Homo sapiens: one gene and its partner. The protein of the gene in region 1 interacts with the protein of each later gene in a biochemical or structural test. Each region holds a gene or a part of one and is shown in the gene's direction. Other genes may lie near its edges.

The links. The genes of interacting proteins can lie anywhere in the genome.
Region 2: the proteins of FASN (region 1) and SNX8 form a complex in vitro, tested with the Homo sapiens proteins (one study listed by BioGRID).

The regions. Positions count from the first base shown.
Region 1 is NC_000017.11:82,081,223-82,088,246, reverse strand, and holds part of FASN (fatty acid synthase), read left to right. Parts: coding exon 1-131; intron 132-212; coding exon 213-293; intron 294-385; coding exon 386-562; intron 563-742; coding exon 743-922; intron 923-993; coding exon 994-1,197; intron 1,198-1,688; coding exon 1,689-1,993; intron 1,994-2,375; coding exon 2,376-2,765; intron 2,766-2,844; coding exon 2,845-3,009; intron 3,010-3,090; coding exon 3,091-3,212; intron 3,213-3,293; coding exon 3,294-3,448; intron 3,449-3,530; coding exon 3,531-3,734; intron 3,735-3,862; coding exon 3,863-4,013; intron 4,014-4,093; coding exon 4,094-4,272; intron 4,273-4,355; coding exon 4,356-4,475; intron 4,476-4,607; coding exon 4,608-4,730; intron 4,731-4,821; coding exon 4,822-5,045; intron 5,046-5,131; coding exon 5,132-5,333; intron 5,334-5,568; coding exon 5,569-5,720; intron 5,721-5,832; coding exon 5,833-5,924; intron 5,925-6,086; coding exon 6,087-6,238; intron 6,239-6,403; and 3 more. UniProt on the Homo sapiens protein: Fatty acid synthetase is a multifunctional enzyme that catalyzes the de novo biosynthesis of long-chain saturated fatty acids starting from acetyl-CoA and malonyl-CoA in the presence of NADPH.
Region 2 is NC_000007.14:2,304,442-2,311,465, reverse strand, and holds part of SNX8 (sorting nexin-8), read left to right. Parts: intron 1-1,392; exon of another isoform or gene 1,393-1,413; intron 1,414-1,509; exon of another isoform or gene 1,510-1,609; coding exon of another isoform or gene 1,610-1,661; intron 1,662-7,024. UniProt on the Homo sapiens protein: May be involved in several stages of intracellular trafficking. May play a role in intracellular protein transport from early endosomes to the trans-Golgi network.

The DNA.
Region 1 (7,024 bases):
CTTCCCCGCCACTGGCTACCTGAGCATAGTGTGGAAGACGCTGGCCCGCGCCCTGGGCCTGGGCGTCGAGCAGCTGCCTGTGGTGTTTGAGGATGTGGTGCTGCACCAGGCCACCATCCTGCCCAAGACTGGTGAGGGGTACCCCAGGACCAAGGCGGGGGTAGCTGGGGGGCGGGTGCTGCCCTCTGATCTCCAACTCTCCCGCTCTGCAGGGACAGTGTCCCTGGAGGTACGGCTCCTGGAGGCCTCCCGTGCCTTCGAGGTGTCAGAGAACGGCAACCTGGTAGTGAGTGGTAAGCAGGGCCGGTGGCACGGGAGCTGCGGAGGCTGTGCCCGCTGGCCATGCCGCCCGTCCTCAGGCCCTTCCGCACCTCCCTTTCCACAGGGAAGGTGTACCAGTGGGATGACCCTGACCCCAGGCTCTTCGACCACCCGGAAAGCCCCACCCCCAACCCCACGGAGCCCCTCTTCCTGGCCCAGGCTGAAGTTTACAAGGAGCTGCGTCTGCGTGGCTACGACTACGGCCCTCATTTCCAGGGCATCCTGGAGGCCAGCCTGGAAGGTGGGTACTGACTACACTGCTGCCCAAGCCACCGGGGAGGGCGGTCGTCATTGTGGGGACCACAGAGGGCACCCACAGCTAGGCATGCAGCTTGGGAGGGAGCAGAGGGGCCCGGTGGGCTCTGGGAGGTGGCCCCAGGGACCTGGGAGTTCCACAGCACCAACCAGGCCCTGTGTGCAGGTGACTCGGGGAGGCTGCTGTGGAAGGATAACTGGGTGAGCTTCATGGACACCATGCTGCAGATGTCCATCCTGGGCTCGGCCAAGCACGGCCTGTACCTGCCCACCCGTGTCACCGCCATCCACATCGACCCTGCCACCCACAGGCAGAAGCTGTACACACTGCAGGACAAGGCCCAAGGTAGCCCCGCCCCAGCCCCAGCCCAGTGCCCCCACCCAAGTATGCCGCACTCACCCAGCCTGTCCCCACAGTGGCTGACGTGGTGGTGAGCAGGTGGCTGAGGGTCACAGTGGCCGGAGGCGTCCACATCTCCGGGCTCCACACTGAGTCGGCCCCGCGGCGGCAGCAGGAGCAGCAGGTGCCCATCCTGGAGAAGTTTTGCTTCACTCCCCACACGGAGGAGGGGTGCCTGTCTGAGCGCGCTGCCCTGCAGGAGGAGCTGCAACTGTGCAAGGGTGAGGTCCCAGCCCTGCTGGCTTCGGACACCTCTGGCGATGAGGAGCGATCGCCTCCCCTCACGTTGACCCCAGACTTGCTTCTCCACGGGGCCCCCTTTGGGGTCAGCAACCCTAGCCCAACCCTCCGGCCGGAGCTCACGATGGCGGCCTCCCTCCCTCCCCCAGCCCCCAGCCTTCCTCGTCCCTGGTCACTGTTCCTCAGTCTTGAAAGGGTACTTGGGGGCAAAGATGACAGATTCAGCCTAAGGTCACACCTTGGCTAGGCACAGAGTAGCCCCTGCAGCTGAATGCGGCCCCTCACTGCGTCCACAGTGGGCAGGAGTCAGCCTCCCAGTGGTGGGCAGCCCCTTCCTCAACCCTCAGCTATTTCTCATCCTGTGGGCAGAGCGGGGTGGTGGCCCCAGAAGGACAGAGTGGGTCTGAGAGCCCATGCCAGGCAGATGCCCTGGGGCTTTGGGAACACCAGGCCTGCCTCCCTCCCTCCCCAGGGCTGGTGCAGGCACTGCAGACCAAGGTGACCCAGCAGGGGCTGAAGATGGTGGTGCCCGGACTGGATGGGGCCCAGATCCCCCGGGACCCCTCACAGCAGGAACTGCCCCGGCTGTTGTCGGCTGCCTGCAGGCTTCAGCTCAACGGGAACCTGCAGCTGGAGCTGGCGCAGGTGCTGGCCCAGGAGAGGCCCAAGCTGCCAGAGGACCCTCTGCTCAGCGGCCTCCTGGACTCCCCGGCACTCAAGGCCTGCCTGGACACTGCCGTGGAGAACATGCCCAGCCTGAAGATGAAGGTGGTGGAGGTGGGTGCCTCCTGGGCAGCCAGGCCTCTGCCCCGGACATGGTAGGACCCACCCTGACATCAGTTGCAGGAGACAGCACAGACACGGGGCGGGCCCTGGGCGGTGGGTGGGGCCGGCCAGTTCCCTGTGTGGTTCTGTGCACGTGTCCTGTGCGGTCCACACAGCCACCGTGGAGGGTCCGCCCGTGGGCTCCAAGAGGTGCAGCCTAGGCAGGACCCCAGGGACAAGACCAGTGGCATCCATGCGTGCCCATGGCTGGCACCGTCATCAGGTTGACGGGGAAGCCTTTCTGCCAGACTGAGGCCTCATGGACATTTTGCCCAGCCCCAGGTCAGGGGCACCTGCCTGGTGTGGGGCTGATTCCAGAATTCACCCCCTACAGGTGCTGGCTGGCCACGGTCACCTGTATTCCCGCATCCCAGGCCTGCTCAGCCCCCATCCCCTGCTGCAGCTGAGCTACACGGCCACCGACCGCCACCCCCAGGCCCTGGAGGCTGCCCAGGCCGAGCTGCAGCAGCACGACGTTGCCCAGGGCCAGTGGGATCCCGCAGACCCTGCCCCCAGCGCCCTGGGCAGCGCCGACCTCCTGGTGTGCAACTGTGCTGTGGCTGCCCTCGGGGACCCGGCCTCAGCTCTCAGCAACATGGTGGCTGCCCTGAGAGAAGGGGGCTTTCTGCTCCTGCACACACTGCTCCGGGGGCACCCCCTCGGGGACATCGTGGCCTTCCTCACCTCCACTGAGCCGCAGTATGGCCAGGGCATCCTGAGCCAGGTGCGGCCGCCGGGCAGGGGGACAGGGTGGGGGCCGGGTGAGGGCCAGGCGGGCAGGGTGCTGACCACCGCCCCCACAGGACGCGTGGGAGAGCCTCTTCTCCAGGGTGTCGCTGCGCCTGGTGGGCCTGAAGAAGTCCTTCTACGGCTCCACGCTCTTCCTGTGCCGCCGGCCCACCCCGCAGGACAGCCCCATCTTCCTGCCGGTGGACGATACCAGCTTCCGCTGGGTGGAGTCTCTGAAGGTCAGGCCCTGCCCCACCTCCAGGCCCCACCCCACCTCCCAACTTGCCGAGTGTGGCCTGACCCTCCCCGACCCGCTGTAGGGCATCCTGGCTGACGAAGACTCTTCCCGGCCTGTGTGGCTGAAGGCCATCAACTGTGCCACCTCGGGCGTGGTGGGCTTGGTGAACTGTCTCCGCCGAGAGCCCGGCGGGAACCGCCTCCGGTAGGAGCACGGCCCCTCACCACTTCCCCTTCCCCACCAGCCTCCCCATCCCCAGCCTGAGCTCCCCGCCTCTGCCCCCAGGTGTGTGCTGCTCTCCAACCTCAGCAGCACCTCCCACGTCCCGGAGGTGGACCCGGGCTCCGCAGAACTGCAGAAGGTGTTGCAGGGAGACCTGGTGATGAACGTCTACCGCGACGGGGCCTGGGGGGCTTTCCGCCACTTCCTGCTGGAGGAGGGTGAGCCCCCGACACTGCCCTGCCCCTCCCGGGAGACTGCACCCGAAGGCCCCGCAGCAGCCCCACCTCCCTGTTTCCCTAGACAAGCCTGAGGAGCCGACGGCACATGCCTTTGTGAGCACCCTCACCCGGGGGGACCTGTCCTCCATCCGCTGGGTCTGCTCCTCGCTGCGCCATGCCCAGCCCACCTGCCCTGGCGCCCAGCTCTGCACGGTCTACTACGCCTCCCTCAACTTCCGCGACATCATGCTGGCCACTGGCAAGCTGTCCCCTGATGCCATCCCAGGTATGGGTGGCATGGGGCCGTGGGAGTGGACTGGGCCGGGGAGCAGAGACCCCAGCAGCTAGGACCTGCCTGGGAGCCCCTCGGGAGGGAAGGGCAGGCGGTGAGGGGCTCAGTGCCGTCTCCCCCAGGGAAGTGGACCTCCCAGGACAGCCTGCTAGGTATGGAGTTCTCGGGCCGAGACGCCAGCGGCAAGCGTGTGATGGGACTGGTGCCTGCCAAGGGCCTGGCCACCTCTGTCCTGCTGTCACCGGACTTCCTCTGGGATGTGCCTTCCAACTGGTGAGTGTGTCGAGGGTGTGAGCCTGGGCCCCACGTGGATGGCGGCCAGGCCTGTGCTGACCCACCTGCTGCATCCCCAGGACGCTGGAGGAGGCGGCCTCGGTGCCTGTCGTCTACAGCACGGCCTACTACGCGCTGGTGGTGCGTGGGCGGGTGCGCCCCGGGGAGACGCTGCTCATCCACTCGGGCTCGGGCGGCGTGGGCCAGGCCGCCATCGCCATCGCCCTCAGTCTGGGCTGCCGCGTCTTCACCACCGTGGGTAAGGCCCCGCCCCCGGTGCCTCCCGCTGCCCTCCTGGCCCCGCCGCCCTGGCTCACCAGCCGCGCTTCCTCTCTTCACCAGGGTCGGCTGAGAAGCGGGCGTACCTCCAGGCCAGGTTCCCCCAGCTCGACAGCACCAGCTTCGCCAACTCCCGGGACACATCCTTCGAGCAGCATGTGCTGTGGCACACGGGCGGGAAGGGTGAGTGGCCCCCACAGCCCCCACCTGCCTCCTGCCTAGCCTCCGGCCCAGGGAGAAGCAGGGTCTGGCCCTCTGGACTGTGGTGGCTGGGCTTGCAGTGGGTGTGATTGTCTGGCCCCTCTGGCCCCCTAGGCGTTGACCTGGTCTTGAACTCCTTGGCGGAAGAGAAGCTGCAGGCCAGCGTGAGGTGCTTGGCTACGCACGGTCGCTTCCTGGAAATTGGCAAATTCGACCTTTCTCAGAACCACCCGCTCGGTGAGGCCGGCAGCGCCTGGGCGGGGGTGGGCATGGATGGGTGTGGGTGGACCTGTGGAAGGCCCTGGGTGAGCACGGCCCCTGCCCGCAGGCATGGCTATCTTCCTGAAGAACGTGACATTCCACGGGGTCCTACTGGATGCGTTCTTCAACGAGAGCAGTGCTGACTGGCGGGAGGTGTGGGCGCTTGTGCAGGCCGGCATCCGGGATGGGGTGGTACGGCCCCTCAAGTGCACGGTGTTCCATGGGGCCCAGGTGGAGGACGCCTTCCGCTACATGGCCCAAGGGAAGCACATTGGCAAAGTCGTCGTGCAGGTGAGGGGAGGAGTCCCGGCGCCTCGGGCACCCCAGGCTCTGGTCCCCAGGCAGTGCCTGAGCCGGTGGGTGCTGCTTGGACGCAGGTGCTTGCGGAGGAGCCGGAGGCAGTGCTGAAGGGGGCCAAACCCAAGCTGATGTCGGCCATCTCCAAGACCTTCTGCCCGGCCCACAAGAGCTACATCATCGCTGGTGGTCTGGGTGGCTTCGGCCTGGAGTTGGCGCAGTGGCTGATACAGCGTGGGGTGCAGAAGCTCGTGTTGACTTCTCGCTCCGGGATCCGGACAGGTGAGTCGGCAGGGGTGCTTGTGGACCAGCCTGGGCCAGGCACAGCCCCGGGCCCCTGAGCCCTTCTCTGCAGCCCACCATTGTGGGCTGTCACGGTGCCTGGGGTCTGTCCCCCTCCATCTTGTGGGGGGCTTGCTGGATGGGGCTCTGCGGCTGCTCCCCACTTCCCCAGCCCGGCGTGTAGGGAAGAGACCGTACCCTGGCCCAGTCCAGCCCACAGTCCTGTGTCCCGCAGGCTACCAGGCCAAGCAGGTCCGCCGGTGGAGGCGCCAGGGCGTACAGGTGCAGGTGTCCACCAGCAACATCAGCTCACTGGAGGGGGCCCGGGGCCTCATTGCCGAGGCGGCGCAGCTTGGGCCCGTGGGCGGCGTCTTCAACCTGGCCGTGGTGAGGGAAGGCCCCAAATGGGGCCCTCAAAAGCCCCAAGACCAAGGGGGGGACCCTGGGTGGACGGGTGAGGCCCTGGAGCTGCAGGGAGTGCTGAGGATGCCTCCCCCAGGTCTTGAGAGATGGCTTGCTGGAGAACCAGACCCCAGAGTTCTTCCAGGACGTCTGCAAGCCCAAGTACAGCGGCACCCTGAACCTGGACAGGTGGGTACCGCACAGCCCTGCTCCCGCCTCTGCCGGGCTCTGGGCTCAGGGCCGTGGGAGCCAAGGTGGTTTGTTGACAGCCCTCTCTGGCGTTTCCTGGGGATGGGACGTTGGGGGCTCCTGGGGATGCTGGCCAATGGGGAGTGACACGCGTGCCCACAGGGTGACCCGAGAGGCGTGCCCTGAGCTGGACTACTTTGTGGTCTTCTCCTCTGTGAGCTGCGGGCGTGGCAATGCGGGACAGAGCAACTACGGCTTTGCCAATTCCGCCATGGAGCGTATCTGTGAGAAACGCCGGCACGAAGGCCTCCCAGGTGGGCCCCACCCTCTCCCCTCGACCCTGCCCACCCTGCCCTCTCCCAGTGGCCACTCCCCACCCCCACCTTCTCCCCGCAGCCCTGCCCACCCCACCCTCTCCCAGTGGCCACTCCCCACCCCGACCTCCCCGCAGCTCTGCCCACCTGCCCCCTCCCCCACAGGCCTGGCCGTGCAGTGGGGCGCCATCGGCGACGTGGGCATTTTGGTGGAGACGATGAGCACCAACGACACGATCGTCAGTGGCACGCTGCCCCAGCGCATGGCGTCCTGCCTGGAGGTGCTGGACCTCTTCCTGAACCAGCCCCACATGGTCCTGAGCAGCTTTGTGCTGGCTGAGAAGGCTGCGGCCTATAGGGACAGGGACAGCCAGCGGGACCTGGTGGAGGCCGTGGCACACATCCTGGGTGAGCACTCCCAGTAGGAGCCGCGCCAGGTGTTTCCCCTGCTGGCATCAGGGTCTTGGGACATAGCAGTCGTGCCCCTGTGCGCCTCAGTTTCCCCATCTGCAGAGCCAGGGTGCGGGCGCAGGTGTCACTGTGGTGGTGGTGCTTTGGGAGATGCACAGCCCACGCACCCCTGGGTGTCAGCCCTGCCGCATACAGGCCGTCCCCATGCCCCCTCTGGAGTTGCCGACCCGGCGCATCCCTTCCAGGCATCCGCGACTTGGCTGCTGTCAACCTGGACAGCTCACTGGCGGACCTGGGCCTGGACTCGCTCATGAGCGTGGAGGTGCGCCAGACGCTGGAGCGTGAGCTCAACCTGGTGCTGTCCGTGCGCGAGGT
Region 2 (7,024 bases), on another chromosome or scaffold:
GGATCGCCCGAGCCCAGGCGCTAGAGACCAGCCTGGACAACGTAGCGAAATCCTGTCTCAAATTTTTAAAAAAGAAAACAAAAACAAAAACAGCAAAGAAAAAAGTTAAGTCTCTGAATATTGTCCGGAGACTATGTGTGTGACTTACACGTTCACTAAGGTTGGTTTGAAGGAGTGGTTGTGCCTTACGGGTATACAGTGAATTTCCTCTTCTCTAGAGTTTTGGCCACACAGCCAGAGCCCACTGGTGGTATTCATGTGGGAACTGTGAAATCTCCTGCATCTTCGGTGTTGCCAGAAAAAAATGTGCTTGTTGTACTTTTCCACATTAAGAGTCTCATTCTATTTGAATTCTTTGAAGCTTAAGCTGTGAATGCTCTCTAGGGCAACCCTCTTTATAAAAACTTAATTTTCAGTTATGCCATACATGGACAAATGTATTTTCTTTAAAAAAGAATAGAACATTGTAGATTAAGTGAAAGTCCCATCCTAATTGCCATCATCTCCTGTCTGTACCTGAGAGGTGACCATTGTTCTCAGTTTGGGATGGACCGTTTTAGTTCTGTTTTCACATTTTATTCATATATGTACTCAGGAAACATATACTTCCTTATATAAGTGTGCTCATGTTTCCCTAGCGTAGTATATTCTCTAGCTTTCTTTTGTTCCTTTTATTTTTATTTATTTATTTTTTTGAGACGTAGTTTCACTCTTTTGCCCAGGCTGGAGTGCAGTGGTGCGATCTTGGCTCACTGCAAGCTCCACCTCCTGGGTTGACGCCATTCTTCTTTCTGCCTCAGCCTCCTGAGTAGCTGGGACTACAGGTGCCTGCCACCACACCTGACTAATTTTTTGTATTTTTAGTAGAGATGGCATTTCACCGTGTTAGCCAGGTTGGTCTTGATCTCCTGACCTCATGATCTGCCTGCCTCGGCCTACCAAAGTGCTGAGATTACAGGGGTGAACCACTGCGCCCAGCCACGCCTGGCCAATTTTTAAAATTTTTTGTAGAGACAGTCTGGCTGTGTTGCCCAGGCTGGTGTGGAACTCCTGGCCTCAAGCAATCCTCCCACCCGGGCCTCCCAAAGTGCTGGGATTTCAGGCATGAGGCACCGAGCCTGGCTGGATTTTATATTGAAACTATTCCTGTCAAAATATCTGATTGACCGGAACATTCTGTCCTCTGACTATGCAGGATAAGGGTTTTTTTCAGGGCCTGTTCTTAGGTCATGAAGCTCAATGATTGTGACATCCAGCGAGAACGGCAGTGAGTGTGGTAAGTGTGCTTGGTCGTCCAGCCTGATTTCTCGGGATCGATTAATACATGGATAGAAATATGTACAGATGACCACGGCGTATCCTGGCTCTGCCGTATACAGTCCTGCGGCCCTACATTGACTCTTTAGAACGAGGGTGAGTCACGCTTCACTTGCGGCTCATCCCATGGCATTCCATACATTCCATTCGGTTCGGAAGCTCCGTGCTGTTTGTCCGCGTTGACCTGGCGATGACTCCTTGAGTGTCATTGAGGCAGGTCCAGGGCCTTTGCTGACCCTCGGGGCTCCTTCACCCCTGCCCCGAGCCTTCCCCTCTTGCCTGGGCGACTTCCATGCACCCTGGGCTCCCATCAACCCTTACCTGCAGCTGCTCGCTCATGTCAGGTCTGTTCTCTGTGTGAATACGTTGGTCAGAATTCATTGCGCTGTCACTTAAAGTTTATACTTTTTTTTTTTTGAGATGGAGTCTCGCTCTTGTTGTCCAGGCTGGAGTGCGATGGCGCGATCTCGGCTCACCGCAACCTCCTCCTCCCGGGTTCAAGCAATTCTCTTGCCTCAGCCTCCTGAGTAGCTGGGATTACAGGCATGCGTCACCACACCTGGCTAATTTTGTATTTTCAGTAGAGACGGGGTTTCTCCATGTTGGTCAGGCTGGTCTCGAACTCCCAACCTCAGGTGATCTGCCCACCTTGGCCTCCCAAAGCACTGGGATTACAGGCGTGAGCCACCGCGCCCGGCTGGTTCTGGTGATTCTTGTGCCTCAGCCTCCCCAGTAGCTGGGATTACAGGCGTGTGCCACCACACCTGGCTAATTTTTGTATTTTTAGTAGAGACGAAGTTTCGCCATGTTGGCCAGGAAGGATGATCTCAAACTCCTGACCTCATGTGATCCACTTGCTTTGGCCTCCCAAAGTGCTGGGATTACAGGGGTGATCCACCCCACTGGGCCTATTTATACATTTTGAGCAGGGTGTGGTGGCTCACACCTGTAATCCTAACACTTTGGGAGGTTAAGGCAGGAGGATCACTTCAGGCCAGGAGTTTGAGGCCAGCCTGGGCAATAGAGTGAGACCCCATCCCTATTTAAAAAAAAGATTTGTGTCTGGGCCTGGTGGTTCACGCCTGTAATCCCAGCACTTTGGGAGGCCGAGGTGGGCGGATCACCTGAGGTCAGGAATTCAAGACCAGCCTGGCCAACATGGTGAAACCCCGTCTGTACAAAAATCCAATAATTAGCTGGGCATAATGGCGAGTGCCTGTAATCCCAGCTACTCGGGAGGCTGAGGTGGGAGAATTGCGTTAACCTGGGAGGCAGAGGTTGTAGAGGTTGTAGTGAGCCGAGATGGTGCCGCGCTGCAGCCTGGTTGACAGAACAAGACTCCAGCTCAAAAAAAAAAAAAAAAAAAAATTTGTTCATTTTATGGTGATTAAATTATGCCCCACAGTATTGTTTGCATTAGGGACAAAACCTTCTGCCCCATTTCGCTCCCTTCCATGACCCTTTTTTTTTTTTTTTTTTTTTTGAGACAGAGTCTCACTCTGTTGCCCAGGCTGGAGTGCAGTGGTGCCATCTAGCCTCACTGCAACCTCCATCTCCTAGGTTCAAGTGACTCCTGCCTCAGTCTCCCCCGTAGTTGGGATTACAGGCGTGTGCCACCATGCCCAGCTAATTTTTGTATTTTTAGTAGAGTCGGGGTTTTACCATGTTGACCAGGCTGGTCTCGAACTCCTGACTTCAGGTGATCCGCCCGCTGCAGCCTCCCAAAGTGCTGGGATTACAGGTGTGAGCCACCGTGACTGGCCATGACACATATTTTGGTAGTAAACTCCTGATGAGCAAACTTATTTTTATTTTTTTTACAAGTTTATTTTGTTTATATAGTTTTGTTACTTTTTTCTTTTTTTAATTCTGGCTCTCTCCAGAAAACAGAAACCTATTTTTCTTTAACCACAGTATCTAGAATACTATCTGCTATGTAGCAGAGTCTCAAATATTTGAATAGAATTACATTTTTATAAATTTTTGTATTATATTTCTTATGTGATAAGACTTGACAACACTGCAAATATGTTTTGTTACTGGTCTTTAAACTTGCTCATCCTCTCTCTCTCTCTGTCTCTCTCTCACACACACACACACGCACACATACACAATTTGCAAGGTAAAACGTGTCAATTTGAAGAAAGAGGAACTAACTGAATCACTGTTATGTAGAACAGATTTTGCCAGAATTTGTGGTTAGCAAGAAAGTGATGTGTTCCGGGTAGGGGAATTCTGTTTTGGTATTATTTTGTCTTTCCTGAGAAAAGCATCACAAAAAGAGATGTTTGCCCATCCTGTTTGCTGGGGTAGTGGGAAGAGACCGGGGGTGATGGTGGTGCTGGCTGGACGTGGGTGGTTTCACAGGACCTGCTGTGTCTGAGAGGAGCCATGCGGTGATTAGAAGCTTGGAGGCTGCAGGTAGGAGGCACAGAGCCCGAGAGTGCATGGAGAGCCTGGCTGTCGGTCTCCAGCATTGTCACTGTCACCTTTTTTTTTTTTTTTTTTTTTTTTGGAGACAAAGTTTTTGCTCTTGTTGCCCAGGCTGGAGTGCAATGGTGCGATCTCGGCACACTGCACCCTCCGCCTCCCGGGTTCAAGCGAGTCTTCTGCCTCAGCCTCCCGAGTAGCTGGGATTACACGTGTCCACCACCGCACCTGGCTAATTTTTGTATTTTTAGTAGAGATGGGGTTTCACCATGTTGGCCAGGCTGGTCTCGAACTTGGAACCTCAGTGATCCCCCCGCCTTGGCTTCCCAAAGTGCTGGGATTACAGGCGTGAGCCACTGCACCTGGTCCATTGTCATCCTCTGAGAAACTGGAGCGCGGCCACGCTCTGCATATTTCTACTATAGAATCACCAAAAAAAAAAAAATCACATAACCAGACTTAAAGGGCAGAAGTGCTTTGTGAGAAGTGTTTTTGGGAAAATATTGGCATTAAAATATCAGGTAGGGTCCCTTTTGGGAGGACTGAGGAGGGGTGTGTGTTCAGCTCCGGGAGGATCTGGTCTGCCCTTCCTGCTGTTTTCTGTTGACTGGGTGGGAGGAGGCACTTTGCTGTTTCTGTTGTGTGTAGCAGGGGTTTAATGGGGGTCTTTTTAGCTCCCTATAAGCATTTTGAAGTTTGTGTGTTATGGAAATCTGAAGTGAAATTACACAAAGTTTGATTAACCCCAGGAAGTACTGTAGGGGCCGGAGAAACTCAGGTTAGGTAATATCTTTCAAGAAGCCCAGTTACGTTATTTTCCAGGAATCTTCCAAAACCTGATTTGTGCGGGTGTCCACCAGGAGCCTGATGAGTGAGTTGTCATCAGACCCAGTAATGCGCTGTTGTTGTGTGAATTGGTGCTTTCAGAAAATTTTGTTATACAAGTGATACAACCACAATCGCAAAAATTTCATAGACAAATCACCTGTAGTTCCACCCCTTTTAACAGCCGTTGCATTTTAATATATTTCCTTTTTTCCTGTGCATTGCTTTGTATGTAGTTATCATCATAGTGAATATGCGTCTTTATAGTTAGTTCCTTTCACTTGACATTTTTCTACACTGCTAGTTTTCGTAATTTTCTACCTAGTGTCTGTATAATAGTGCATTAAGGAATATAAAGTTGTGCTTCGAAAGTGCTAATATGATAAAATTTCAGTTAAAAAAAATTTCAGTTAGAGATATTCTTGCCACATGTTTTCCAGAAAATGATTTGTTAAATGGAATCCATATTAAAATTTGTCCCGGAGGCTGGGCACGGTGGCTCACGCCTGTAATCCCAGCACTTTGGGAGGCTGAGGTGGCTGGATTACAGCCTGGCCAACATGGTGAAACCCCGTCTCTACTAAAAAAAAATACAAAAATTAGCCAGGCTTGGTGGCATGCGCCTGTAATCCCAGCTACTCGGGAGCCTGAGGAAGGAGAATTGCTCGAGGTTGCAGTGAGCTGAGATCGCGCCACTGCACTCCAGCCTGGGCGACAGAACAAGACTGTCTCAAAAACAAAAAACAAACAAAAAAATGACTTGTCCCGGGTTGGGCACAGTGGCTCATGCCTGTAATCCCAATGCTTTGGGAGACCCTACAGAGCCTGATAAGGGATAAGACTGAATGAAAATCGAGGAAGATGCCGTACCAATTAGGCTGGTAGTTCCCTCTGGCGGGAAGAAGGCACCCAGATCTGTCAGGGATGCAACCAGAAGGAGCGTTTCCAGGGTGCCGCTGTCTTTATTTTTTATTTTGTAGAGACAGGGACTCACTACGTTGCTGAGGCTGTTCTTGAACTCCTGGGCTCAAGCAGTTCTCCTGCTTCGGCCTCCCAAAGTGCTGGGATTACTGGTGTGAGCCACCGTGCCTAGTCTGGCTGTCTTTAATTCTTGGCCTGGATGGTGGTTACACGTGTTTGGTAAATAATTTTGTTCGAGTGTTCATAGAAGTTTTATAGTCCTTTCTGTGCATGTGTAAAGTATTTAATAATACAAAATAATACAATACAGGCCGGGCATGGTGGCTCACGCCTGTAATCCCAGCACTTAGGGAGGCCGAGGCAGGCGGATCACCTGAGGTCAGGAGTTCGAGACCAGCATGACCAACATGGTGAAACCTCCTCTCTAATAAAAGTATAAACATTAGCCAGGTGTGGTGGCGGGTGCCTGTAATCCCAGCTACTTGGGAGGCTGAGACAGGAGAATCACTTGAACCCAGGAGGCAGAGGTTGCAGTGAGCTGAGATTGCACCACTGCACTCAAGCCTGGGCAACAGAGCAAGACTTTATCTCAAAAACAAACAAACAAACAAAAATACAAAATGTTGGGGGAAAACCTGAGGTTCCTAAGATAATTTTGTAGGACTATCTGGACTGACTGCCTTGGTATTCATGCCCCAAGTCCCGTTGGATTTACCCAGAGGGAGGTGCCTTTAGGGTGAAATCCGTTTTCTTGCCTCAGTGTCTGCTCCTAACAGAGGGCACTGCGGTTGATCAGCAGAAGAGCTCCCCTGCCTCCAGCTGTTTCTGAGGCCTGAGTGCTGCTGGCTCAGCCCGGTGCTCTGTTGAGTCCAGCTGTTTCGGTGACCCACCGGCAGCACAGCAGGAAGGAGCACCCAGACCCTCCGGCGTCTGCAGGAACAGCAAGGCTTGTCTGGGAACCTCACTCTCAGCCAAAAGCCAAAAGCAGCTCTCTGGCCAAAGCTGTCAAGGAGAGTCAGATGATATTCATTACTGGGCACAGTTCATTATCTTCAGGACCGAAATTTCACCTCCCAGCTCCTGAGAAATTCCAGTCCAGGCTGGGGGTGGACCTGTCTTTCAAGAACCGGCCACTTAGTGCCCGTGTTTTGCACCAAAAGGAGATTTGAAATTGCATTTTCAGCTCTTCAGAGTCTGGGGAGTGTCTCTGTGTGTGCAGTTTCTTATCTCAGGACGGCATGTGCACGGTTAGCCTTCCTTCCTTGGCTAGATAGGAAAGGAGGGACACTCCTGGAAGCTTCTGCGAAGTTTAAAGTGACCCTGTGTTATGTGCAAATGGGCGTGCTTCCCTCCAAGGTGGGCTACTCAGTGAGGGGACCGTATTCCCATCTGCCCCTGTCCTTGGGGAGATGGAATTTTTTTTTTTTTTGAGATGGAGTCTCGCTCTGTCGCCCAGGCTGGAGTACAGTGGGGCAATCTCCGCTCGCTGCAAGCTCCGCCTCCCGGGTTCACGCCATTCTCCTGCCTCAGC